Homo sapiens: one gene and its partners. The protein of the gene in region 1 purifies or fractionates together with the protein of each later gene. This does not show direct contact. Each region holds a gene or a part of one and is shown in the gene's direction. Other genes may lie near its edges.

Region 1 (3,974 bases):
CAAGTTATTCACTTGTAAAATGGGGATAATATGAGCCTTCATGAAGTTACTTATGAGGATAAAAAGAATAATATGAGAAAAACGCATTGTAAGCAGTATCTGCCCAGAAATTTTGAATCTAGTTGAAGAGCATTGAACAAGGAAACAATGCAAAATAAGATATAATTAGACAGAGCTGGGCACGGTGGTTCACATCTTACTCCCTGCATTTTGGGAGGCCAAGGTGGACAGGTCACTTGAGCCCAGGAGTTCACTACCAGCCTGGGCAACATGGCAAAACCCTGCCTCTACCAAAAATACAAAAATTAGCCATGCGTGGTGGTGCTTGCATGTAGTCCCAGCAACTTGGGAGGCTGAGGTGGGAGGATAGCTTGCACCCAGGAGTTGGAGGCTGCAGTGAGCTATGATTACACCACCACACCTCAGCCTGGGCAAAAAAGAAGAAAATTAGATAGGAAACTGGAGTATAGCGACCATATTATAATAGAAATTTGAAGCAGAGAGCATAGAAGAGCGAGGACAATTTTGGTTATTTTGGTGTTTTTCTCTAAGCTTTTTTTTTTTTTTTTTAAGACTGAGCCTGTTGCCCCAGGCTGGAGTGCAGTGGCGTGATCTCAGCTCACTGCAACCTCCACCTCCCAGGTTCAAGCAATTCTCCTGCCTCAGCCTTTGGAGTAGCTAGGATTCCCAGTGTGAGCCACCACTCCTGGCTAATTTTTGTATTTTTAGTAGAGACGGGGTTTCACCATGTTGGCCAGACTGGTCTCGAACTCCTGACCTCATAATCCGCCTGCCTAAGCCTCCCAAAGCTGTATCTTGATCAATGCTGACCTGCATACCATATCCTGAGCTTCCTTCATTGTGTCCTTGTCTCAGAGTGAGTTGGCAATTTCTCTAAGGTCTGTGGTTTCTAAGCCCATTATTGTGTATAAAGTCAAGTAGAAAAAGCGAATATTAGAAAACCCTGAGGCTGTAACCGTCAGCAAACCCTGAATGCTGTCCGTATTCTTAGGCTTTGGAGAGAGTTCCAAAAATTGCCAATTATCAGTCAGTCAACACCCAACAGAGCTCTTGGCCATCATGACCATATTTTGGGGTCACCTTATTTCAAGATTACTAAATTGTTTAGCTGTAAATACTCTTCAAGCATATTCCTTGGTTTAGTTAATAATCAATCATTTATTTACCCAATAACTATTTACTGGGCACCTACTTAGCCAAGTACAGCTCTATACTCTTCCTTCTTCAAGGAGTTCAGAGTCTGAGGCTCAATCTAACAAGTAAGTAGATACTCTTTTGCAGAGTGACAGGGACACTGATACAAGTAAAGTCAGAATGTCATGGAAGCCCAGAGGAGGGAGCTTTTACTCTGCAAGAGAGAGTTGGAGAAGGCATTCCAGAGAAGAGTGCTCTTGGGGGAACATGTGTCTTTTAATATTAATTAAAAATTATTTTAACATTATTATTTTGGAAAGCAGATGAAATGATAATGAACTTAAACTTTAAAATCAGTTGCCTGGTTCCCATCCTGATTCTTCTGCTTACAAGTTTGACATTGGACAAGTGTCTTAACCTTGTTTTACTCGAGTTTTCTTATCTATAAACTGAGAATAATAGCAGGATTTACCTCACAGCATTACTGTGAAGTTTTAATGAGATAAAGCATATGAAGTACCTGGCACATAATAAATGTTCAATAAATAATAGCTATCATTTAACTGTTAAAGTAAAACAGTAGTTTGGAAAACTAATAACATAGAAACCAGCTATAATTGGCCAATTCAAATACCTATTATCATTTTTGTTTATTGTCTTAAAATTTTTCTTTTACGTATGTTTTTAAGTAGAGTCAACCCTACATATCCATGAATTCTGCATCCATGGATTCAACCAACCATGGATCAAAAATATTTTTAAATTGCATTTGTATTGGACATGTACAGACTTTTTTCTTGTCATTATTCCCTAAACAATACCGTATTCACATTATATCAGATATTATAATAATCTAGAGATGATTTAAAGTATACAGGAGGATGTGCATAGGTTATATACAAATAATACACAATTTTATATTGGGGACTTGAACATCCATGGATTTTTGGTACTTGCAGGAAGTCCTGGAACCAATCCCCCACAGACACCAAGGGACAGCTGTATAAAACACAAAACAAAACACAAACACAAACAAAAAAATACAAATTTTTTTCACTTAATGTTATAAGTATTTTTAAATATTACTACATAGCTTTTATGTTTATAGTTTTTAATGGCTATACAGTAGACTAAAAAAAGAGTAAAAGCTTCCAGTTTTTCAGTACTATAAATTTTGCTAAAGTGGACATTTTAAAATGATTTTTCCACGTTTTAGATTATTTCCATTGTGTAATTCTCAAACATCCAGCAGCATCAAATTGTATAAATAAATTTATGTTTTTGAATGCATATTGCTAAATTATTGCTGAATTTCCTTTTAAAAGCATAGTACTTGTTTAGATCTATTAGAAAAGCCTGAAATAACGGGTATCTTTTTCCTAACATTTGATATTGTTTGGATTTATTTTATTACTAATGAGTTTTTACCACTGCTTTCCTAATTCTGTTTTCCTTTTTTGAATTTTCTGTTCACTTCCTTTGCACACTCATCTATTGATATCTCACATTGCTTTTCTCACCAATTTGAACAAGCCTTTCATTCATTTTTCCAGCCTGCAGCTTGCCGTTCTACTTAGCTGAGTAGTAGCTTAGCAGGATAGTGTGGTATTAAGATAACAGTCTCTGGAGCCAAACTCTCTGGATCCAAACCTGACTGCCACCTACTAAGTGGGCAGGGTAACCAATCTGTAAATGAGAATTATATTGGCTTCTCCTCTAGAATTGCTGTAGAAAGAAGAGAGACTGGCACAATTATTCACCCAGTACATGCCAGTTATTACTAGGCATATTGTAATATAAGTAAAATAGTAATATTGTAATATTGTAAAATAGTAAGAAGGGATGATTTTGAGACATGCAGGTGAGCAGAATGCAGGCTAAAGCCCTGGCTCAACTTCTCCCTCTCCAGGTGGTGGCCACCATGATACTCCTCATAATCGTCTTTGCCATCTTTGACTCCAGAAACTTGGGAGCCCCCAGAGGCCTAGAGCCCATTGCCATCGGCCTCCTGATTATTGTCATTGCTTCCTCCCTGGGACTGAACAGTGGCTGTGCCATGAACCCAGCTCGAGACCTGAGTCCCAGACTTTTCACTGCCTTGGCAGGCTGGGGGTTTGAAGTCTTCAGGTAAGTAACAGTGGTGGGGAAGAGAGAGACAGAGTCATGCTGCGCCTCACCAGTGGGGCGGGGCTTTGACATGGAGATCCAGGGAAGTTCAGATGACAGCGCCAACGTTAACTGCACACTCTGGTCATAAGCATGAGACATTTCACTGGTATTTTGTGGTATGATGTGTGTGTGTGTGTGTGTGTGTGTGTGAAAGAGAGAGAGAGACAGAGAAAGAGAGGCGGCTCTAGGTAAATTCAATAGAGATAAAACTGTCCCACATAATAATAATCCCTCAATTGCTATATGATTTTATGTGAACATTTTAGCTGTATAACTTGTCTGCAGATTCATTTTGTGACAAAGTTGGGCTACAATTTGCATCCTATGATGCCACTACAGGGCTCTTCCTCGTGAACCACGCAACCTATGCTGCACTTATTCCACAGATATTTGTTGGGCATTATCTGTGCTTTAGTCACTGTGCTAAGCAAGGAAATTTCAAATCAGCAAAAGCACTCACCTTGAGCGATATAATAAGTGCTCTGGCAACCCCTAAAAGTGCTGCAGGAACACAGATAACGTGTGAGTAACTGCCAGGGAAGCAGGGAAAGACATGACTGCAAATGTGAGAGCTGACTTGGTTCTGGAGATATGAGTAAGAACTTCCGGACAGGACAGACGTAAGATTGAGCCTCTGCCCCAGAAATGGC
Region 2 (3,974 bases), on another chromosome or scaffold:
TTACCCTCAAAAGCCAAATACGAAATTGTTTTAAGTTGATATAGAACACAAATCAGACAATTGGCCCCAATGCTTGGTATGGGCTCTGGCTGTGAATGTAACACACATTAGCCAGTACCCTAGTATAGCAGTTAAGAGTTAACATTAAATCTTGTTTCTAGTGATGGGGAATGAGGGAATGAATGCCTCTCCTTAAGGCCAAAAAACAGGGCCCTGGAAAATCCCTCTGTTCAGATATATATATTCATTTAGACTCTATTCATTTAGAGTCAGATAGATCTATTCATTTAGACTCTTAAAATGTAAATGCCCAAAGGGTTAAAACCATTACTTGTGTTAGTGTTACATAATTATAATAACCTAAATGGATTTTATGATAAAACAAAAATGTGTTTTAATGCCGTATCCCCGTTTTGAATTTTTTTGAAGGTTTTCTTGGAGCAGAAGAAAATGTTAAAAAGTGGCCTTAACATAGCCCACTTTAAACAGCATGTTTCTATAATTGAAAAAGAAACAAAGGAATACTTTGAGAGTTGGGGAGAAAGTGGAGAAAAAAGTAAGCAAAATGTTTTATGTTTGTCCTAACATTTCTACTTCTCTGTGAATAGAAAAGTAGAGTATATATGTGTGTAGTATATAAAAAACAAATTACAGTGTATGTAAAACTACCTTAGATTTATGGGAGGGTTATGTAATGATTACCATGAAGTTGTAACTGAGAATCCAGTTTTTATACTGGGCTGCAAGTTAAGTATTGCCTTCAGAAGCAATTGCTGTGCCCATAGTAGGAAGCAACATCTGCCCACAGGGCAGCAGGACCCAGGGCAGCAGGTCACTATATTCTGGGTCTGGCCTTTGGCCTCTGTAAGAGTTCCAGAATCTTTGTTTTTGGTATACTTAAGTTGATATTGATATATTTTCTAACCATACAAGAAACTGATGTATAAATTAGAATGCCAATGTAATAATGCATGTGAGACATATAATTACAGCACCAAGAAATCCAGAATATTTACTGATATTCTTTTTATTGACAAATATAATTGGAAAGCCAGATGATCATTGGAAGTTCATTTAGTGAATGTGGAATTAACAGGAAATTAATTGGATAATTTTTATTAGTTGTCATCAAATTATGCTTGCCTGGTGCATTTGTCTCCAGTGTTGGGATATACTAATTGGTGATTATAGTTTTCTTTTACATATCGCCAGTAATTCCATTTTGGCCCTGATCTTCCTACTTTTAACCTGGGAAATAATCTGATCTTTGGCTACTATTCCTTGGGAAGTACCTTATTATTGTCATATGCACTATAAATAACCTTTTTTCTGCTTTTGTTATTGTGACCTGGAAATCAAATAACCACATTTATTCTTTTCATGATGAAGTGCTCATGAGTGGGGTTTTGAGATGTGTTTCTGGGATCTGTTTTGGCTGTTTAGAGGGACAGGGTGCTTCACATTGTTTGGTTTATTGCCCCTCTTTGTTGTTGTACATAGTCACATGTCTGTCTACAGACTTTTTTTGATGATATGAATAGGATCTTGTTTCTTCTTGAGTTCTGTTTTTAATTCTCAATTTTCTTTCACTTTTTGGAAATAGTAATGAGAATAATCTTTTTTTTCTCCCTAGATGTGTTTGAAGCTCTTTCTGAGCTCATAATTTTAACAGCTAGCCATTGTTTGCATGGAAAGGAAATCAGAAGTCAACTCAATGAAAAGGTAGCACAGCTGTATGCAGATTTGGATGGAGGTTTCAGCCATGCAGCCTGGCTCTTACCAGGTTGGCTGCCTTTGCCTAGTTTCAGGTATGGATAAAGAATATATTACACTAGGTTATTTAACTTTGTATAATTATTGTAGTGTTGGTATGCTTTGCCTTAACAAAGATAAAAATTAAACAAGTAAAACATACAAAATGGGTAAGATTATGAATCCCCTTTCTTCTATAAGAATTCAAGACAAATTTTCTTTATATAATGAGCTCATTTAAAGTAAGTTTCAGTTTATTAAAAAGGTGATTTGTTGTCTGTCTAGTCTAATATTTTATTTATGTTTTTGTTTTTGAGATGGAGTCTTGCTCTGTTGCCCCAGCTGTAGTGCAGTGGTGTGATCTCGGCTCACTGCAGTCTCTGCCTCCTGTGTTCAAGCAATTCTCCTGCCTCATCCTCCTGAGAGCTGGGACTACAGGCACGTGCCACCATGCCCAACTAATTTTTCTATTTTTAGTAGAGACAGGGTTTCATCATGTTGGCCAGGCTGGTTTCAAACTCCTGACCTCAGGTGATCCACCTGCCTCAGCCTCCCAAAGTGTTAGGATTACAGGCGTGAGCCACTGAGCCCAGCCTAGTTTAAAAGCCTGCTTACCTCACGTATTCCTTATCCTCAGGAAAGTCTCTGAACTATACCTAAAAGTGATACAGCTCTTCTCTAGCACTTGTTTGAAATCTTTGGTGGCTTTTTATTGTATTGTGAAGTTTCTTTGTTTTAAATATTTGTGCCTTTATTTAATTTTCTGTTTCTTAAGGACAGGGACTGCCTCTGATATAAAGAAATATTGCTCTTAGGACTTGATCTATAGCTTAGTGCTTAGTGTTTTGCATATTAGTAGGCTTTCTGTACTTTTGTTGATTTATTGGTGTTTAGGTGACAGATGGGGAGGAGATAGATTGCTAGTCCCTTTTCTTCTATTTCTGCCCCCTCTATCTAGTTACAGATTGGAAGAGGGGTGGGAGTAAAAGGAAGAGCCAGGAGAGATTCCCTAAAGTTCTCTGGAACTCATCATACCTTATATTTGCAAGGAGCTTTGCAGTTTCAAAATGTTTTCATATATCTTATATTAGAACACCCAGCACAGCCCTGGACTCATAGTGGGTTCTCCATAAATGTGCATTTCTTTTTTTTTTTTTTTTTTTTGGTGATGGAGTCTTGCTCTCTCGCCCAGGCTGGAGTGCAGTGGCATGAGCTCGGCTCACTGCAAGCTCTGCTTCCCAGGTTCACGCCATTCTCCTGCCTCAGCCTCCCGAGTAGCTGGGACTACAGGCACCCGCCACCAAGCCTGGCTAATTGTTTTGTACTTTTAGTAGAGATGGGGTTTCACCGTGTTAGCCAGGATGGTCTTGATCTCCCGACCTTGTGATCCGCCCGCCTCGGCCTCCCATAGTGCTGGGATTACAGGCGTGAGCCACTGCACCTGGCCCATAAATGTACATTTCTACCTGCCTGTTTCTACCTGCTCTGTCTCTTGGATGAAGTCAGAGCTTGCTATGTTAGGCCCTTCACATTCTGGCCCAGTCTTTCTTTCTTCTACTCATACCAACTAATTTAACCAGATTATTCAATTCACTTTCTTAAACAGGCCTATGTTTTCCTGGTTCGACTGTATTCATACAGTTAAGCCCCAACATCTTCTCTTCTGTACACATGGTTTCAGTTGATCCTCAATAACAGATTAACAGTCTTGTAAATGAAACAGAGTAGGAGTTTTTTTTAGAAGGCTTGATTTAAGAGGGGGCTTGGGAGTCAGACTGCCTAGTTTTAAATTCCAGCTCCAATGTTTGCTTTCTGTGTGATCTTATGCAGCTAGCTATAACTTGAGGTTAATAGTATGTACCTCACAGGAAGATAAAAGTGAGTAATTCATGTAAAACACTTAACATGGTACCTGCTACATAGTGAACATACTATTTAAAGGTAAAGTTTAGGAGTTGAAGCTTGTTTTCTGAATCTGCTAGTATTTTCACCCCCTACAAAAAACTATTGTATTAGAAAGTGAAAAGTAGAACCAGATTCCATGGAAGAACCAGAGTGACTCTTCTGCTTTAAGACTTGATTTGGTATTAAAATTGGAATTTTATGTTAATTTAAAAGAGTATCCTACTTTCTGTTGAACTGGAAAATACTTCTAAAGGAATTTCTTGCTTGTTTTAGGCCTTTAGTTTGAACACAGGCAATGTGTTAAGAATCTGGGATAT
Region 3 (3,974 bases), on another chromosome or scaffold:
TTTCCAATTTGTTGCATTGTTAGTGGGTTCTTTTAGGTTTTACACAGCTTTTGAGTTAGGTAGGGGACATGTATGTGCATCTCTAAGCCTTATGGGATGGGGAGTCACCTCCACAGCCGCTTCTTCTACCTTGCCTGCACAGTTTTGCATCTGTTGGTCATTTGTGCCAGCATTCTCTGCAGCCTGTGCAGTGGAGAGAGCCACCTGAGGGCTGGCCCTCACGCTGGCCCTGGCTCGCTCTTTTTATATGACCTCAGAGGTCCCTTATCTTCTGTGCATGGGGGACTTGGGCCAGCTGAGCTCAGCGGAGTCTTTCAGAGCAGCATGGGCTTGCCGATATGAGCCGAGTGCCCTGGAGATGGGCCAGGGGAAGGAGCTGGAGGGATGTGGCTTTATCTTATTTCCTGTGCCTAGCATAATGGTGGCATTTCTCTAGCCTGGTGGGCAAGGGCAATGGATTCCCAAGAAGAGTGGCGTGCATGGACCAGGGTGTGGAGCACACCCTGGGCCAGATAATCGCAGGTGGACATCAGGTCTTTGAAGATACCAGGGAACTGGTTTGAATGGGAGGCCCTTGAGAAGCCACTCTGGAGGAAATACCTCAAGCCAGTGAAAGAGCCCCCCTCCTGGCAGCTGTCCCCCTGGCCTGTGGAATATAGGCTGGCTGACAGTGTCAGCTTGGCACAGGCTGGGATTGTGGGGAGGGTGCTGTGGACCCAGGATGAGAGATTTCCTTGTGGCAGGGAGGCTGTGGAGTCCCCCTGGTGCCAGATGGCTCTCTGGGCCTATTGGGTATGCCCCTGTGCTGATGGCAGTGGTAGGAGACATGGGAGGGTGACATATGTCAGTCCCGACTGGGGCATTTGATGGCGTCCGAGAAGACAAGCAGGAGCAGGTGTTTGAGGAGGGGAGAGTGGGCCTGTGGGACCCACGTCTTCCTCCTAAGCTCTAATGGCATTCTGTCGGCTTTTAGGCCTCACTTGGCACATCTCAGTGTGTGTGGTGGGAAGGGTCAGGGATGCGTCTGCTGTGCACTGTCTTCTTCTGACCTCCCCTTCCCCAAGACTCTTCCAGCAAAAGCAGGAAGACTGGATGGAGACGCAAAAGCTCTGTCTGCTTTCCTAGCTGAGGACGGCAGGCCAGTTTCTCGCTCTGACCAGCCACCTGCCTGCCCTGCCCCTGGTATTGTGCTGCTGGAGGTGCTGTCCATGTTGAGCATACTGTGAATAGCATTCCTTGGAGCTGTGCAATGAAGCGACTATGCAGGCAGCTGCCTTTTTGTTGCTCAGTTGTTTAGTCATTTGTTCATGTATCCTTCCGTCCCACTCCTTCTCTCTCCTGTCCTCCCTCCATTATCTGTTTATTTATTTATTCTTTGAGCGTATTCCTGCCCTCCTGGAACTTATAGTCCACTGGGAGCACAGACATTTGTGGATATAATTACAGTAAAGGTCTATGAGAGCCATGATGAGAGAAGAACAGCTGCTACTGGGGCCTAGAGCAGGGGCGCCTGACCCGCCTCTGGGGGCTGGTGTCAGAGGCAGCTTCCGTAGGCTAGCAAGGGATGCTTCTATAGGCAGTAGGCTACTGCTACTTCATCTTTGGGCTGTGTGTAGAAAGTAGGTCTTGGAACAAGCCCACCCTACCCAGAGGGCCTTGCCTGTTCTTCTGCTCTGCCCTGTAGAAAGTGTATGAGGTGGAGGTTCAGAGGACAAGGGTGACTCTCAGGTATCTGGCTTGGTGGTACTGAGTTGGGGCTGTCCCTGTACTTTCAGCCCATTCCTCTGTGGTTAAGGGTTAATGATCATTCAGTGGCCCCCACTGCCTGGAAGGCTCACTCCTCTGCCCGCAGCCTGACCCATCCTGACCCCTGCCCTCCCACTAGCCACACCATGGAACACCTGCCCTCCTGCAGGGAGCCCTTCATCAGCCTGGTAGATGTGCCAGCAGCCCCTCCTAGCAAGTTTCCTCCTCCCACCAATTTCCAGACTTACCTGCTCTTAGGTGCTCACTTCCACTCCTGCTCCCCTGGGCTACCAGCCCACCTGGCCACACACCATGGCATAGCTTTGGTTTTCTCTGAACATTTCTTAAATACAATACAATCATATGCTTCCCCATGACCTGTCTTCTGTTGTCTCTGTTAGCTAAGGATTTTAAAATGTTAACTTTTTCAGGTACAAAAACCGTAATTGAATTTTAAGCATCTTCTGAGGTCTATGTCTTAGTCATCATTTCACCCCTCCCCACCTGCAGGTAGTTTGTGCTTATTAAGTATCTTGATTTGAAAATGATGAGATTATCCTTGCTGTGTGAGATTTGCTGATGGCCCATCAGTAGATTAAAAGTGAAGGAAGTTGAGGTGGCTTGAAATAGGATTCCTATTTCAAATTCCTGACACCTGCTGCTTTTTTAAGCCAGATTTTTTACCAGCAATATCTTAAGAATCTTGGCTTACTGCAACCTCCGCCTCCCGGGTTCAAGCAATTCTTGTGCCTCAGCCTCCCGAGTAGCTGGGACTACAGGCCCACACCAATACGCCCGGCTAATTTTTGTATTTTTAGTAGAGATGGGGTTTCACTATGTTGGCCAGGCTGGTCTCGAACTTCTGACCTCAAGTGATCTGCCCACCTCAGCCTCCCAGAGTGCTGGGATTATGGGTGTGAGCCATGGTGCCCAGCTGGATCATGTAACCTTGGTCATGCGCAACTCACAATTCATCTCAAAAAACCTGAAGTTCTTGGGGGGCACTTCCTCATTCCTAGTCTCTGAAGAAATACATGAGAACAACCAGGCCACCAGAGGTGGAAAGGGACACACCAGACCTCAGCTTGCCAGAGCTCACTTTGACATCTGGAAGAAATCACCCTGTTGCCCTGAGCCTTAGCTTCCTTCTCTTGATTTCTCTCCTCCCAATTTTTCTCCTTTCCTCAGTGGCTGGCATAAGAAGGGGCACCTTTGTGGAGGTTGGGTACAGGCCCAGAACCTTTGCTTTTTTATTTGTTTAAACAGATGTGTGTGAGTGAGAGAGTCAGACAGACACCAGGATGAGAATTAACCTGTACTTGGTATAAGAGGAAGGTGGCACCTTTAATCTGATGATGCATAGCAAGAGAACTTGCCAGCAAAGAAAAAAGAAACTTAGAATATGTTCTGGCTGCGTAGATGTAATAATAATTACTGTCTTTTGCATGATCTGATGATCATTATCATTTGCAGCCCCCAGATTATAATGAATCACATTAAATTATAACAAAATAAGGCTGGGCGTGGTGGCTTACGCCTGTAATCCCAGCACTTTGGGAGACCAAGGTGGCAAGGTGGGTAGATCACTTGAGGTCAGGAGTTCGAGACCAGCCTGGCCAACGTGGCAAAATCCTGTCTCTACTAAGAAGTACAAACATTAGCCAGGCATGGTGGCGCATGCCTATAATCCCAGCTACTTGGGAACCTGAGGCAGGAGAATCGCTTGAACCCGGGAGGCGGAGGTTTCAGTGAGCCGAGATGGCACCACTGCACTCCACCCTGGGCAACAGAGCAAAACTCCATCCCAAAATAAATATATATATATATATATATATATATATATATATATATATATATATATATATATATAACAAAATAACCTTATTGTCCTTTTGTTCCTTATTCTATCCCTAAAATCAGTCTATGACTATCTTTATAGATGTTGCCCCGACATTGCAAACTTTGCAGACTGGCCGGGGCCAGGCCCAAGGGTGGTAACATTTGTATCCCATCCAGGCTGCAGATTTCCCCTGTCCTCCCCACCCAAGTCGTCCATTGTTGCCGAATGCATCGGCCATTGAATGTGTAGGGCTGTCTGGTTTCAGTGTGGTTAACTTTGGGAAATTATTGGACAGAACCACTGGGGAAGGTGACAGAAGGCTAGGTAGAACAGCAGAATTCATAAACATTCAGGGTGGACTACCGGGAAAGCTGATGGGCATTTTCTC
Region 4 (3,974 bases), on another chromosome or scaffold:
CATCTGGGTTTGGTGCCCAGCCTGCCAGCCTCGTGCCAATGATGGTCAAGAGAGGCTCCCCCACTTCCTGCCCCTGCAGTGCTCTGTCTGGTAGAGATGTCTTAACTCCCACGCCAGCTCTGTTCTGTGGTTAGTGGGGCTGGGGTAGAGTCAGCTCTGAAGCGGTGACCTTCTGGGTGTCAGGAGAGGCAGGGCGTGCCCAGAATCCTTGCTGACTGACGTGAGCCTCTAGCAGCCATGGAGGTCAGTGCCTGGGTCCTGGAGACCAGGTGCTATGTGCAGGCCCAGGGTGGACAGACAGAATCTTCCACTCCTCTGCTGATTTCTCCACTCATGTCTCATCCTGCTGATTTGTTCTAGAAATGGGTAGAGGATGTTAACATAGGCAGGGCCTGGCAGGGCATCTAGCCCAGACTACCCATTTTACAGAGGAGGAAACAGAGATGAGTGATAACTGGTTCACTGTCACCCAGCACTTTGGTGGCAGAAACAGGACGGGAGCCCAGGCATTGACCCCCAGCCCAGGGCTCATTTGTGTATGTTCCTTGGAGCACTGAGAGCTGCCTGAGAGCAGGAGCTTTGCTTCCCACCCCACCTCCTGGAGACAGTGGCTATGTGCTGCCCTGCCGTCCCCACCCCAAATCTCTGTAGAGGGGGCTGTGAGTTTCTGGTCATTGACTAGGTGGAAACACCAGTCATATCTCTTCAGGCCATGCATTAGCCAGTCCCAGGTTCTTTTTTTTTTTGAGACGGAGTCTTGCTTTGTTGCCAGGCTGGAGTGCAATGGCGCGATCTCAGCTCACTGCAACCTCCGCCTCCCAGGTTCAAGCTATTCTTCTGCCTTAGCCTCCTGAGTAGCTGCGATGACAGGCACGCGCCTCCACGCCTGGCTAATTTTTGTATTTTTAGTAGAGACAAGGTTTCACCATGTTGGCCAGGATAGTCTCGATCTCTTGACCTCATAATCCGCCCGCCTCGGCCTCCCAAAGTGCTGGGATTACAGGCGTGAGCCACCATGCCCAGGCATCCCAGGTTCTAAGGTCTGAGGTCTGAGGATGACTGGTCTCTCTAGCTCCATCTCCTCAGGTGGACAAGGAGCTTATTTTGAGGCTCCTGGAGCTTCCAGGGAAAAGGACTGAGAAGGTATGGCCACAGGGCTGGGCCGGGGCCTGGGTGCCCCACCACGTGGCTACTCGGAGATCACTTCTAAACTCATGATTGTTCTCCTTTGAGTATTGCTAAGACATAAAACCCTAAAACTTAGAAAACAGAAAAAAAAAGATAGAAATCAAGAATAAAAATATTAGCATCCCAGGGGAGCCTGACCTTGGCATGCAAGCAGTGCCTGGGAGGCAGCTTTGGGAACAGAGCAGGAGGGGCAGAGAGCTCTCAAGGTCCGATTGGGAGCCTGAGATCGAAGGCAGGAGGCCCCAGCTTACAGTGGGCTGTGTTCCAGAAGCTTCTGAGTCACTGGTTTGGGACTAATGTGACTTTTTAAAAGGTGCCTGGGTTCCCAGGCCCACCCACCAGGGTCTTCCTCAACTCACAGCATCCCGGCATTTGGCCTCTGAAGATGGTGGAAATGGGGCCGGGCATGGTGGCTCATGCCTGTAATCCCAGAACTTTGGCAGGCTGAGGCGGGCGGATCACCTGAGGTCAGGAGTTCAAGACCAGCCTGGCCAACATGGCGAAACCGCATCTCTACTAAAAATACAAAAATTAGCCAGGTGTGATGGGGCGTGCTTATAATCCCAGCTACACAGGAGACTGAGGCAGGAGAATCACTTGAACCTAGGAGGCAGAGATTGTAGTGAGCCGAGATCGCACCACTGCACTCCAGCCTGGGCGACAGAGTGAGACTCCATCAAACAAAAACAAAAACAACAAAAAACACAAGCTGCAGCAGCCTGTGTTGCTGTGGGGAGGGACACCCGGGACAGCGGTCTCCCCTGAGCCCTGGAGTGAGGTGTCATTCATCTCCCCTGCTGCCGTTGCCTCCTGGGATGTGGGCCCCATCAAGGATCGGGGGCAAGGGCTGGAGGACAGGATGCAAGAACCAGGGGACCAGGCCCCTTCTGGTCAGGGTAGGTCCCAGAACTTTCTCCAGACCCCAGGCACCGCCTTTCTCCTACCCATGTGCTTGCCCTTGTCTTTCTCTCTCCCATCCCCTGTCGGCTCTGGCTGGGGACTCCCTCCAGGGTCAGTGGGGGATGAACGCAGTTTCCCAGTTCGAAATAGACACCTGGATTTCTGGGTTCTTGTGAGTTTTGTGGTTTTGTTGCTGCTGTCACTGGCAGCATGAAGAAGCATTGCCAGTGTCAAAAGTCTTCTTCCTCTGCAGCCCTTATCCCCCCATGCCCATGCGCAGCTCTGTGGGGAAGGACAGAAGGTACACATGGGGCTGTTGGCAGCCTGAGAGGTCAGAGGCCAGCCAGACAACCTGTCCTGGGCTCCTCGCAGGAGGCCAGTGGGTGGGGTTCTGACAGGAAGAGCAGGTGATCAGGGAGTGTGGGATGGGGTGGGGCTGGGGCCCCACCAATGAGTTAATGAGTGAATATTGCCGAGCAGCATGGGCCTTGCAGCCTGCAAGGTCAGGGGATAAGGAGGATGAGGCCATCTGACACTCAGGCTGTGCTGGGGCGGGGAGGATGTTCTGAGAGCCACCTTGGGTGGGCAGAGACCTAGCCAATGGTTCTCACGACCCATCCTCTAGCCCCTGCCTGTCCCCCATTCCTTTTTTTTTTTTTTTTTGAGACAGAGTTTCATTCTTATTTCTGAGGCTGGAGTGCAATGGCACAGTCTTGGCTCACTGCAACCTCCTCCTCCCGGGTTCAAGTGATTCTGCTGCCTCAGCCTCCCAAGTACCTGGGATTACAGGTGGCCGCCACCACGTCTGGCTAATTTTTTTGTATTTCTAGTAGAGACAGGATTTCACCATGTTGGCCAGGCTGGCCTCGAACTCCTGACCTCAGATAATCCGCCTGCCTTAGCCTCCCAAAGTGCTGGGATTACAGGTGTGAGCCGCTGTCCAGAGGAGGGAACAGAGGACGAAACAGAGATGGGTGATAACTGGTTCACTGTCACCCATCACTTTGGTGGCAGAAACAGGACGGGAGCCCAGGCGTTGACTCCCAGCCCAGGGCTCATTTGTCTGTGTTCCATGGAGCACTGATTGCTGCTCCATGGGTCCCCCATCCCAAGAGGCAACACAGGCCCAGAGCAGCCGGAAGGGAGGACAGATGGATCAGGAGGAGCCGAGGCTGGCAGTGTTTGCCCATTTCGCTCCCCTGGCCTGGGTCCTGCCCCAGGACCTGTTACGGAATTACTTGCCCTTTACTGCCCTAAACTGCCCCTGGGCTGGGTGAGGAGGAAGGAGGGGACTGGGCTCAGGACCAGGACCTGCAGGACCAGCGGCCAATGAGTGCGGACAATGGGGAAGGCAGCCAGGATGGTTGGGGGTGGTGGTGGGCGGGGCGTGCCTTTAGCATTTGGCAAAGTAGGGACTAGGAACTGCTGACAAATATTTTGTACCCTTACTTCAGAGCAGAAAGGCTATTTGGGAGCAAAATTCTCTCATGGAATGAAGAGCCTGTTAAGACCTTTTTTCACCAAGTAAAACATGAGGAAGCTGTGGATGTGCAGTTTCTTTCACACCTGCAAATTACACAGCAATCATTCACCCAGCAAAGGAACATTTGCTCCTAGGGGCTGGAGGGAGCTGCCGTAGGGAGGGTGAGAGGAAACTGAGGCTTCCAGAGACACCCTGTCTGCAGACGGCAGGTAGCTGTTGCATGCACCTCATCCCATTTAATCCTGGATGTTACTGGCTCCATTTCACAGATAAGGGGACTGAGGCTCAGTGAGGTTGAGAGGAGGTAGTGGGGCTGGATTACAGGGGAGGGGTCACTGATGAGTGAGAAAGGTGGGTTGGGGGACTTCCCTGAAAGCCTCTCTTTCTCTGGAACCCAGGCATC
Region 5 (3,974 bases), on another chromosome or scaffold:
TCATTCAAAAAGAGGAAAACACTTTTAGTTTTCTATTACTTTATCTATGACTGTAGTTTTGACCTCAGCTGTCATGGATATAAATATATAAGTAGAATCTTTATGGTTATAGATGATCTGTTGATAAAGTATAGTCAGCACCTGATTTACTTCAAATGTCAGATACTTAACTTGAGATATCTTTAAATTAATATTATTTAATTGATAAGTACTAATTGTATATATTTATGGGGTACACTGTGACAATTTTAAAAACTGTAAAAATGGACTCAGTAGTTTTCTTACATTGTAATACTAGAATTGAACAAAACTACTGAGTGAAATTGAATGGTATGTCTAAATATCTAAAATATAGGTGTTCAGGCCAGGTGCAGTGGTTCATACCAGTAATCCCACCACTTTGGTAGGCTAAAGCAGGAGGAACACTTGAGGTCAAGAGTTTGAGAGCAGCCTGGACAACATAGTGAGACCCTGTCTCTACAAAAAAAGGGAGAAATTTTAAATAGAATTTTTAAAAAAGAAAAAAATATAGGTGTTTAAAAGCAAGGGTATAAGTTGAGGGCACAGCTAAAGCTTTTACTTGAGATTTGGAAAGTGATTTTAGGTATTTTTTAAGGGCTTTATTAAAAAAGTTAGATCTTTCAGATCAAGCCCCGTGACTTTCTTTGTCTTCAGCTCAGAGCTGATCTTACATATGTCACCTACAATTTGGGTTCTTTAGCCAGGCGTGATGATGTGTGCCTATAGTCCCAGCTACTCGGGAAGCTGAGGTAAGAGGACCGCCTGAGCCCAGGAGTTTTGGGCTGTAGTGGGCTGTGCTAACCAGGTATCTGCACGAAGTTTGGCAGCAACATGGTGACCTTCTAGGAGTGGGGAACCACCAGCTTGCTAAGGAGGGGTGAACCGACCCAAGTAGGAAAGGGAGCAGGTCAAAACTCCCATGCCAATGAGTAATGGGATTGTGCCTATGAATATTCACTGCACTGCAGCCTGGCAACGTAATAAGACCTCGTCTCTAAATAATAATGATAATAATTTGTGTTCTTAACCAACAGAGAAAGGGTGTTTATAGTACTGTTATTCATGGTGCAACAGCATTTCCTGGCACACAAATCAAACCTCTCCTGTTTGCCTTTGGAGTGCTGTGGCCTTTGGCGAGAAGCCAGGTCTGCCCACAGCCCCAGGCTCTGTCCTTTCTGCCTGTGCAAGGTGGGAGCCGGATATTAGAGAAGACTTGGCCAGGGGCTCTGAGCAGAGAGCTGTGCTGGGAACCCTCAGGACCCCTATCCACTCCAGCTTCCTAAGATGTGTTAGCTGCATACCTCTGGGTGAGAAAACGGGCAGAGGAAGAGTGACTTTCCGAAGGGTGATGCAAACCACCAGCTCTTACAGAGGGGAGATGCCGGATCACGGCCTCTGGGTGTGAGAATTGAGGAGATGTGGTGTAGAGTTGAGAAGTAAGAATATCCCTGACAGTTTTTCATCCCCACCTCTTGATTCTGAGAAGAATACCCACTCAAAAATATCTGATGAGAAGATGTGGAGAGGCCGAGTGCGGTGACTTACACCTGTAATCCCAGCACTTTGGGAGGCTGAGACGGGCAGATCACTTGAGGTCAGGAGTTTGAGACCAGCCTGGCCAACGTGGTGAAATCCCTTCTCTACTAAAAATACAAAAATTAGCCAGGCATGGCAGCGCATGCCTGTAGTCCCAGCTACTCGGGAGGCTCAGACAGGAGAATTGCTTGAACCTGGGAGGCGGAGGTTGCAGTGAGCTGAGATTGCTCCATTGCACTCTAGCCTGGGCAACAGAGCAAGACTCTGTCTCAAAAAAAAAAAAAAAGAAGAAAAGACAAGCTGTGGTGACACCTTGTATAGCTTCTTCAGTATGTGATGTTCCTGTGCCTTCTGATTAGTGCTCAGCGTGGTTCTCTGTGTTAGTTCCATGACCTTCTACTTTTATGTGTTTCCAGTAATTTGAATAGATAACCAGGATTATTATTAATTGGTATGTGGTATTTGGAAATGCTGTATCTGTTCCTGAAACTTACATGTTGATGACGTACTCACCTCAGAATTTCTCTAGAAAATGCATAGGGCTTATTGAGAGGGTTGCTCAGTGGTGTCACCTTCTTTGTCCACTTGCAGCTGAAACATTAACAAACGTGCTGGATTTCAAAAGGGATGCTGGTCTGTGGCATGGCGTGTTAACAGTGAGTGTTGTTTGCTGATGACTAACTGTTGGAACAAGGGATTGAGATGAACCCAAGCCTCTGCCTGAAATGTTGTTGGGAGAGTACATCGGTTTTGTTTTGCTTTTTCTGGTGTGGCTCGGGCCCACTCGCCCTAAGCATGTGTGCTCCCCCACAGAGCGTCATGAACAGGATGCACGTGGTCAGCGTCCCCTACGCGCTGATGAAGGCGAACCCACTCTCCTGGATCCAGAAAGTGTGCTTCTATAAAGGTAACGGATACCATGGTCAGGGCCTTCACCCTTCTTTAGGGAAATCTCTTTGAACTGACCTTTGGTGCTTAAGAAAAAATAAAGCTGACATGTGGAACTGCAGATGTAGGCTGAAGAGCTGTGGGACGTCTTTCTTGGTCACACCCCTGCCCAGGAATATGGGGGCTTTCTCTGCCTCTGGCATGGCCCTCAGGGTTTCGTGGGTGATGTGGTAAGTAGGGCCACTTGGTGGGGTCTGGGCCTTACTTCTCTCAACGGTTGAGGTGCCTCCTGGGACCAAGCAGGAGGCCCCAGCATGGCCACACCTGCACAGTTGGCAGTCTGTGTCTCTGCCCTGTGGAGCTCAGTGGCACTTCTACCAGCCACTGAGGCACTGGATCACCTGGGTCACCCATGTTGCCTTGTTCTACCTACTGGGCTGTGCCCCTCTAGACATGTCTCAGAGCAGTGTGGAGGGGCAGCTCTCTCTGTCTGTCCTACTTTATGGAGGGAAACTGAAGCTTGGGTAGGGGTGGGGGGATTGCTGGATTCCACATGCTAGCCAGTGCAGGGGCCAGACTGAGGCCTGAGACCATCTGTTTAGCTTCTGGGGTCCTCACACTTCTCAGCCAGCACCAGGGGTTTGGGGAAGGACAACATGAGATGAAGCGGGCAGATAGGAAAAGAGCAATATGGAGCTTCTAAGAAAAAATTAATGTTGGAAATGGATCTGAGGTTTTGATGTCTAAATTGTACCTCAGAGTTGATTTTTGTGGAAAAAGCTTTGAGGGTTTGTTAGACTGCATGTGAGAGACGGCTGCAGAGAGCTTGTGACCTGGGAGCTAAGTGTTGTGTCTGTCTGTGCATGTACACCTCTCTGTGGGATGAGGTACACGTGTCTGTAGGCGTGTGAGGGTGCCAGTCCTTGTGACGCAGGGATGTCTGTGCCATCCTCTCTCTGCAGCTCGGGCCGCGCTGGTGAAGTCGCGAGACATGCACTGGTCTCTCCTAGCTCAGCGGGGCCAGAGGGACGTCAGCCTCAGCTCACTGCGCATGCTGATTGTGGCCGATGGTGCCAACCCGTGTGAGTGAGCCTGTGTGCCCGGCGCATACCCCACACAGTGTCCCCTCCTGCAAACCAAAGTAGAATACACTGAGAAGCAAAATGGAGGCATTTTCACTGCCATTGTCATATAGATACACATGTCCCATCGTTTCTATGACACGGAACATCTTGGTGATTCACTGGTTTATCCCATGCATGTTTATTAGGCCACTAAATTTAAAAGCAATTTTAATATGCTTGATGAAAGGTACATGCCTTAATGAGAGTCATCTTTCTTAAGAAATTACCAGATTGTGCTGTGGCCTGGGGTTCCTGTTTCTCTTTAGGCCTCATCCCCACCCTCCTGCCCTTTGTCCTGGTGCCCCCACGTCTCTGGCTTCTGGCTTCACTTCTCCCACCAGGACCCAACCATTCTCCCTCCTGGTTTGCCTGGGTGTCCCCCACATCCTCCCAGGAGGAGCTCCC
Region 6 (3,974 bases), on another chromosome or scaffold:
ACATCAGATTCTATGTATATTTCAGGCCAAAATATGGAGATTATTTTGTTAAAATACTGAGAAAGAATTCAGATGCCTCCCATAATTCCCTTTAGGCCTTGGTACTTACCTAAAACTTCATGTTTCCACACCTACAAGGAAGATGCTGTGGTATTTCTATGGCCCAGCTGAATTGAGTTGATTGCTGTTATTCTGGTACAGTAGCAGAACCCTCAATCTTACCCTATTGTTATTTATTTATTTACTTAAAGAGACAGGGTGTCACTCTGTTGCCCAGGCTGTAGTGCAATGGCATGATCATAGCTCACTGTAACCTCCAGTTCCTGGGCTCAAATGATCCTCCTGTCTTAGCCTACCTGGTAGCTGGGACTACAGGTGTACACTGCCACACACAGCTAATTTTTTAATTGTTTTGTAGAGACGAGGTCTCATGTTGCCTGTGCTGGTTGCAGTCTTCTGGCTTCAAGCAGTCCTCCAGCCTTGGCCTCCCAAAGTGCTGAGATTACAGGCATGAGCCATTCCTCCTGGCGTGTGTTATTATTTCTTCCAAGATGTTCTTTTCCTTTTCTGTGGAAGGTGTAAGCAAATTGGACAGAGCTAGCATTTTCTTCACAAAGCTCCTTGTAGAATCTGCTTCTTCCCTCCCTTTCTGGTATTACAAAGATCACTTAGCAGTCCTAGAAGTGCTGTCATCAGCTTTAACATGAGGATTATTTCTTAACCCCATCTAAAGATCCTGTTTGGTATGTGCTTACCATATAACTTGTGACACCCAAAGGCTGCATACCACAGGCAGAAGGTTACAAAGTGATGACTGCTAGATTGTTTACCAAAGATTAGCATGTAGTTGAGAGTTGAAATGGCTTAAAATACCACTGAGGCTCACAACTCTAAGCCATGGTTAATCATCTTCTGTGCATATTTTCGTATTGTAAAGATCATGTATTTCTTTCAAAAGAACTTGTGGACATTGAGTTCATAGATACAATAGGATCTAGCCCCCATTACTCTTTTGTTGGAGTTCTTGTTTTAGTTTTCTTTTAATTTAGTGACTTCATATCACCATTATCTACCAAGAACATTTGGAATATTTTTCTAGTTTGAGGAAAATAATTAAAGGATGCTATGTAGAAGCCCAGCCACTTAGCCCAGCTCTTCCCTTCCAGTCGGAGGACATATAATTCTCATTATGAATTATTAGATATTCTAGGAGGGTGGCCAAATGTTCATTTGGTAATAATTTTAAAAGCTCTTATTTTTAGTACCATGCCATGTATTGTTCAGAGAAGGATAACATTTCCTGTCTTCTACAGAATTACCAGAATCTTAATCTGTACTGACATGTCAACAGAGTAATACAATACATGGGCATTGAGTTCATATCCTCAAGCCTGTTTATGTATAATAACTAAAAATAAGAGATTCTATCCTCTTTTTTTTTTATAGGCTTTCTGTATTCTGCCACACCAGGGGCAGATGTTTGCTTTGCTCGACAACATAACACTTCTGACAATAACAACCAGTGTTTGCTGGGAGCCAATGGGAATATTTTGTTGCACCTTAACCCTCAGAAACCAGGGGCTATTGATAATCAGCCATTAGTAACTCAAGAACCAGTAAAGGTAAGTAATTTTACATCTAAACTTAAAATTATTCTCTTGCAAGCTATTAATAAATTTCATTTCAGAGGTTTTAGCACATAGCAAAACATTGATGGTTCATTTAATTACTGTATTATAGATGGACATCTCTTTGTATAGTACATTTCTGTGAGAATATTTATGATTTAGAACTTACATAGAAGTAGTTTAGTAACCCTTGGCATTATTGTTATTCTTACTTAGGACAGCTATTCTGAAAATGTTGTTTCACATACGCTATGTATGAATTTTTTTTTCCAAACTAGTATTTTTTATTGTTTGAAAGAAATCTGTGAAGTTATTTCAAGTGCTTTAGTGATTTTTCCAAATGATATGCTTTGAGTTTCATTTCTTACATAGTTTATTTTGAAAGTCAAAAATAAAAATCTCTCATTAAAAATTCAGTTTTTTTGCTGGACGTGGTGGCTCATGCCTGTAATCCTAGCACTTTGGGAGGCTGAGGTGGGCAGATCACCTGAGGTTAGGAGTTTGAGACCAGCCTGGCCAACATGGTGAAACCCCGTCTCTACTAAAAATACAAAAATTAGCCGGGCATGGTGACGTGTGCCTGTAATCCCAGATACTCGGGAGGCTGAGGCAGGAGAATCACTGGAACCCGGGAGGCGGAGGCTGCAGCAAGCGAAGATCGCGCCACTGTACTCCAGCCTGGGTGACGGAACAAGACCCCGTCTCAAAAAAAAAAAAAAAAAAAAAATTAAGTTTTTCCAGCAACATGAAACTGGGTGGTGATATATGAGTTTGTTTTCCTGTTTCTAGGTATTGCTGAGACCCAAAAACTTTTGTAATATTGAAAGTCAACATTGTCATTCTATTCTTTCTCAGGCTACATCATTAACACTAGAAGGAGGACGATTAAAACGAACTCCACAGCTGATTCATGGAAGAGACTATGAAATGGTCCCAGAACCTGTGTGGAGAGCACTTTATCACTGGTATGGAGCAAACCTGGCCTTACCTAGACCAGTAAGTATAGTTAATAGTGCCTTATATAAGGAGCAGTCATAGATGGGGGTCTTCTGTTACTTTTTCTATGTGACTCTCACTAACCACAAAGTAGCTCTTACCTTGTGGTAGAAGAGTGTTCTGAACCTGTGTGGATTGTTCAATGTTAAGTTCCTTCACATTCGTTCATTCATTCATAAATAAAGGCAAGGAAATAGGAGGCTGTTGAATGTGTTATCCACATAAAAGTAGACATCACCTAGGATATGTGGAACTTAGGCTGGAGGGGAAGACAGGCCAAGAGCCAGTGCCAAAAAGTTCAGTGAATGTAGGGCGTGATGCAGAGGTTATTTCTGAAACTACTATTCCTAACAATCACACAAGTATCTAGTTAGGGATTGGATTCTTCTTGTAGCTTTTGGTGGATTTTTGTGGTTTATGTTTTTGAAGGAGGGGCATATAAAAGATCACAACATATGATAACAGAATATTATATTAAAATATTAGTATATAGCACCATTTGTTGTGCTTACACGGTAAACAGCACTCGGTACTCTGGACACTCACTTTTTACATTGTTGATGAAGTAAAATATAACAAGATGTTTTGGTGGGATTTGTTTTGGTATATTAAGAAACACTCTTCCACCTGTAATCCCAGCACTTTGGAAGGCCGAGGCAGGCAGATCACGAGGTCAGGAGTTCGAGACCAGCCTGGCCAACATAGTGAAACCCCGTGTCTAATAAAAATACAAAAATTATCCAGTGTGGTGGCACACTCCTGTAGTTCCAGCTACTTGGTAGGCTGAGGCAGGAGAATTGTCTGAGCCCAGGAGGCAGAGGTTGCAGTGAGCCAAGACTGCACACCATTGCACTCCTGCCTGGGTGACAGAGCGAGATTCCGTCTCAAAAAAAAAAAAAAGAAAGAAACACTCTTCCTTTTATAATGTCCAAGCTAAAACTTCCTTATGCCAGGAAGGTTTTGTATAGATGAGATATGGTACGTTAACTTCTAAAAAGAGTAAAAATCTGTTATAAAACAGACTAATGTAATTTTGATGTTGATTTTGAGTTCTTAATAATTACGTTTATGAAAAATAACCTCAAGCTCCAGGGTTTGAACAATATTCCCACCTCAGCCTCCCCAATAGCTAAGACTGCAGGCACACACCACCATAACAGCTAATTTTTAAATTTTTTTAAGAGACAGAATCTTGCTGTGTTGCCCAGGCTGGTCTCGAACTCCTGGTCTCAAGCAGCCCTTCTGCCTTGGCCTCCCAAAGTGCTGGTATTACAGGCATGAGCCACTGCACCTGGCTTGTAGTGTTGTTTTTATTTGATTTTTATTGCTCCCTCTTGATACTAAAAAAAA

What was found.
Region 2: the proteins of AQP9 (region 1) and CYP51A1 purify together in Homo sapiens (affinity purification with mass spectrometry; one large-scale study listed by BioGRID and IntAct). This does not show direct contact.
Region 3: the proteins of AQP9 (region 1) and RAB6B purify together in Homo sapiens (affinity purification with mass spectrometry; one large-scale study listed by BioGRID and IntAct). This does not show direct contact.
Region 4: the proteins of AQP9 (region 1) and ADCY3 purify together in Homo sapiens (affinity purification with mass spectrometry; one large-scale study listed by BioGRID and IntAct). This does not show direct contact.
Region 5: the proteins of AQP9 (region 1) and DIP2A purify together in Homo sapiens (affinity purification with mass spectrometry; one large-scale study listed by BioGRID and IntAct). This does not show direct contact.
Region 6: the proteins of AQP9 (region 1) and USP32 purify together in Homo sapiens (affinity purification with mass spectrometry; one large-scale study listed by BioGRID and IntAct). This does not show direct contact.

The regions. Positions count from the first base shown.
Region 1 is NC_000015.10:58,176,064-58,180,037, forward strand, and holds part of AQP9 (aquaporin-9), read left to right. Parts: intron 1-3,064; coding exon 3,065-3,282; intron 3,283-3,974. UniProt on the Homo sapiens protein: Aquaglyceroporins form homotetrameric transmembrane channels, with each monomer independently mediating glycerol and water transport across the plasma membrane along their osmotic gradient.
Region 2 is NC_000007.14:92,124,087-92,128,060, reverse strand, and holds part of CYP51A1 (lanosterol 14-alpha demethylase), read left to right. Parts: intron 1-429; coding exon 430-556; intron 557-1,633; coding exon 1,634-1,808; intron 1,809-3,974. UniProt on the Homo sapiens protein: Sterol 14alpha-demethylase that plays a critical role in the cholesterol biosynthesis pathway, being cholesterol the major sterol component in mammalian membranes as well as a precursor for bile acid and steroid hormone synthesis.
Region 3 is NC_000003.12:133,889,031-133,893,004, reverse strand, and holds part of RAB6B (ras-related protein Rab-6B), read left to right. Parts: intron 1-3,974. UniProt on the Homo sapiens protein: The small GTPases Rab are key regulators of intracellular membrane trafficking, from the formation of transport vesicles to their fusion with membranes. Rabs cycle between active GTP-bound and inactive GDP-bound states.
Region 4 is NC_000002.12:24,913,453-24,917,426, reverse strand, and holds part of ADCY3 (adenylate cyclase type 3), read left to right. Parts: intron 1-3,974.
Region 5 is NC_000021.9:46,535,076-46,539,049, forward strand, and holds part of DIP2A (disco-interacting protein 2 homolog A), read left to right. Parts: intron 1-2,148; coding exon 2,149-2,213; intron 2,214-2,370; coding exon 2,371-2,464; intron 2,465-3,407; coding exon 3,408-3,527; intron 3,528-3,974. UniProt on the Homo sapiens protein: Catalyzes the de novo synthesis of acetyl-CoA in vitro. Promotes acetylation of CTTN, possibly by providing the acetyl donor, ensuring correct dendritic spine morphology and synaptic transmission.
Region 6 is NC_000017.11:60,221,059-60,225,032, reverse strand, and holds part of USP32 (ubiquitin carboxyl-terminal hydrolase 32), read left to right. Parts: intron 1-1,446; coding exon 1,447-1,622; intron 1,623-2,483; coding exon 2,484-2,624; intron 2,625-3,974. UniProt on the Homo sapiens protein: Deubiquitinase that can remove conjugated ubiquitin from target proteins, such as RAB7A and LAMTOR1.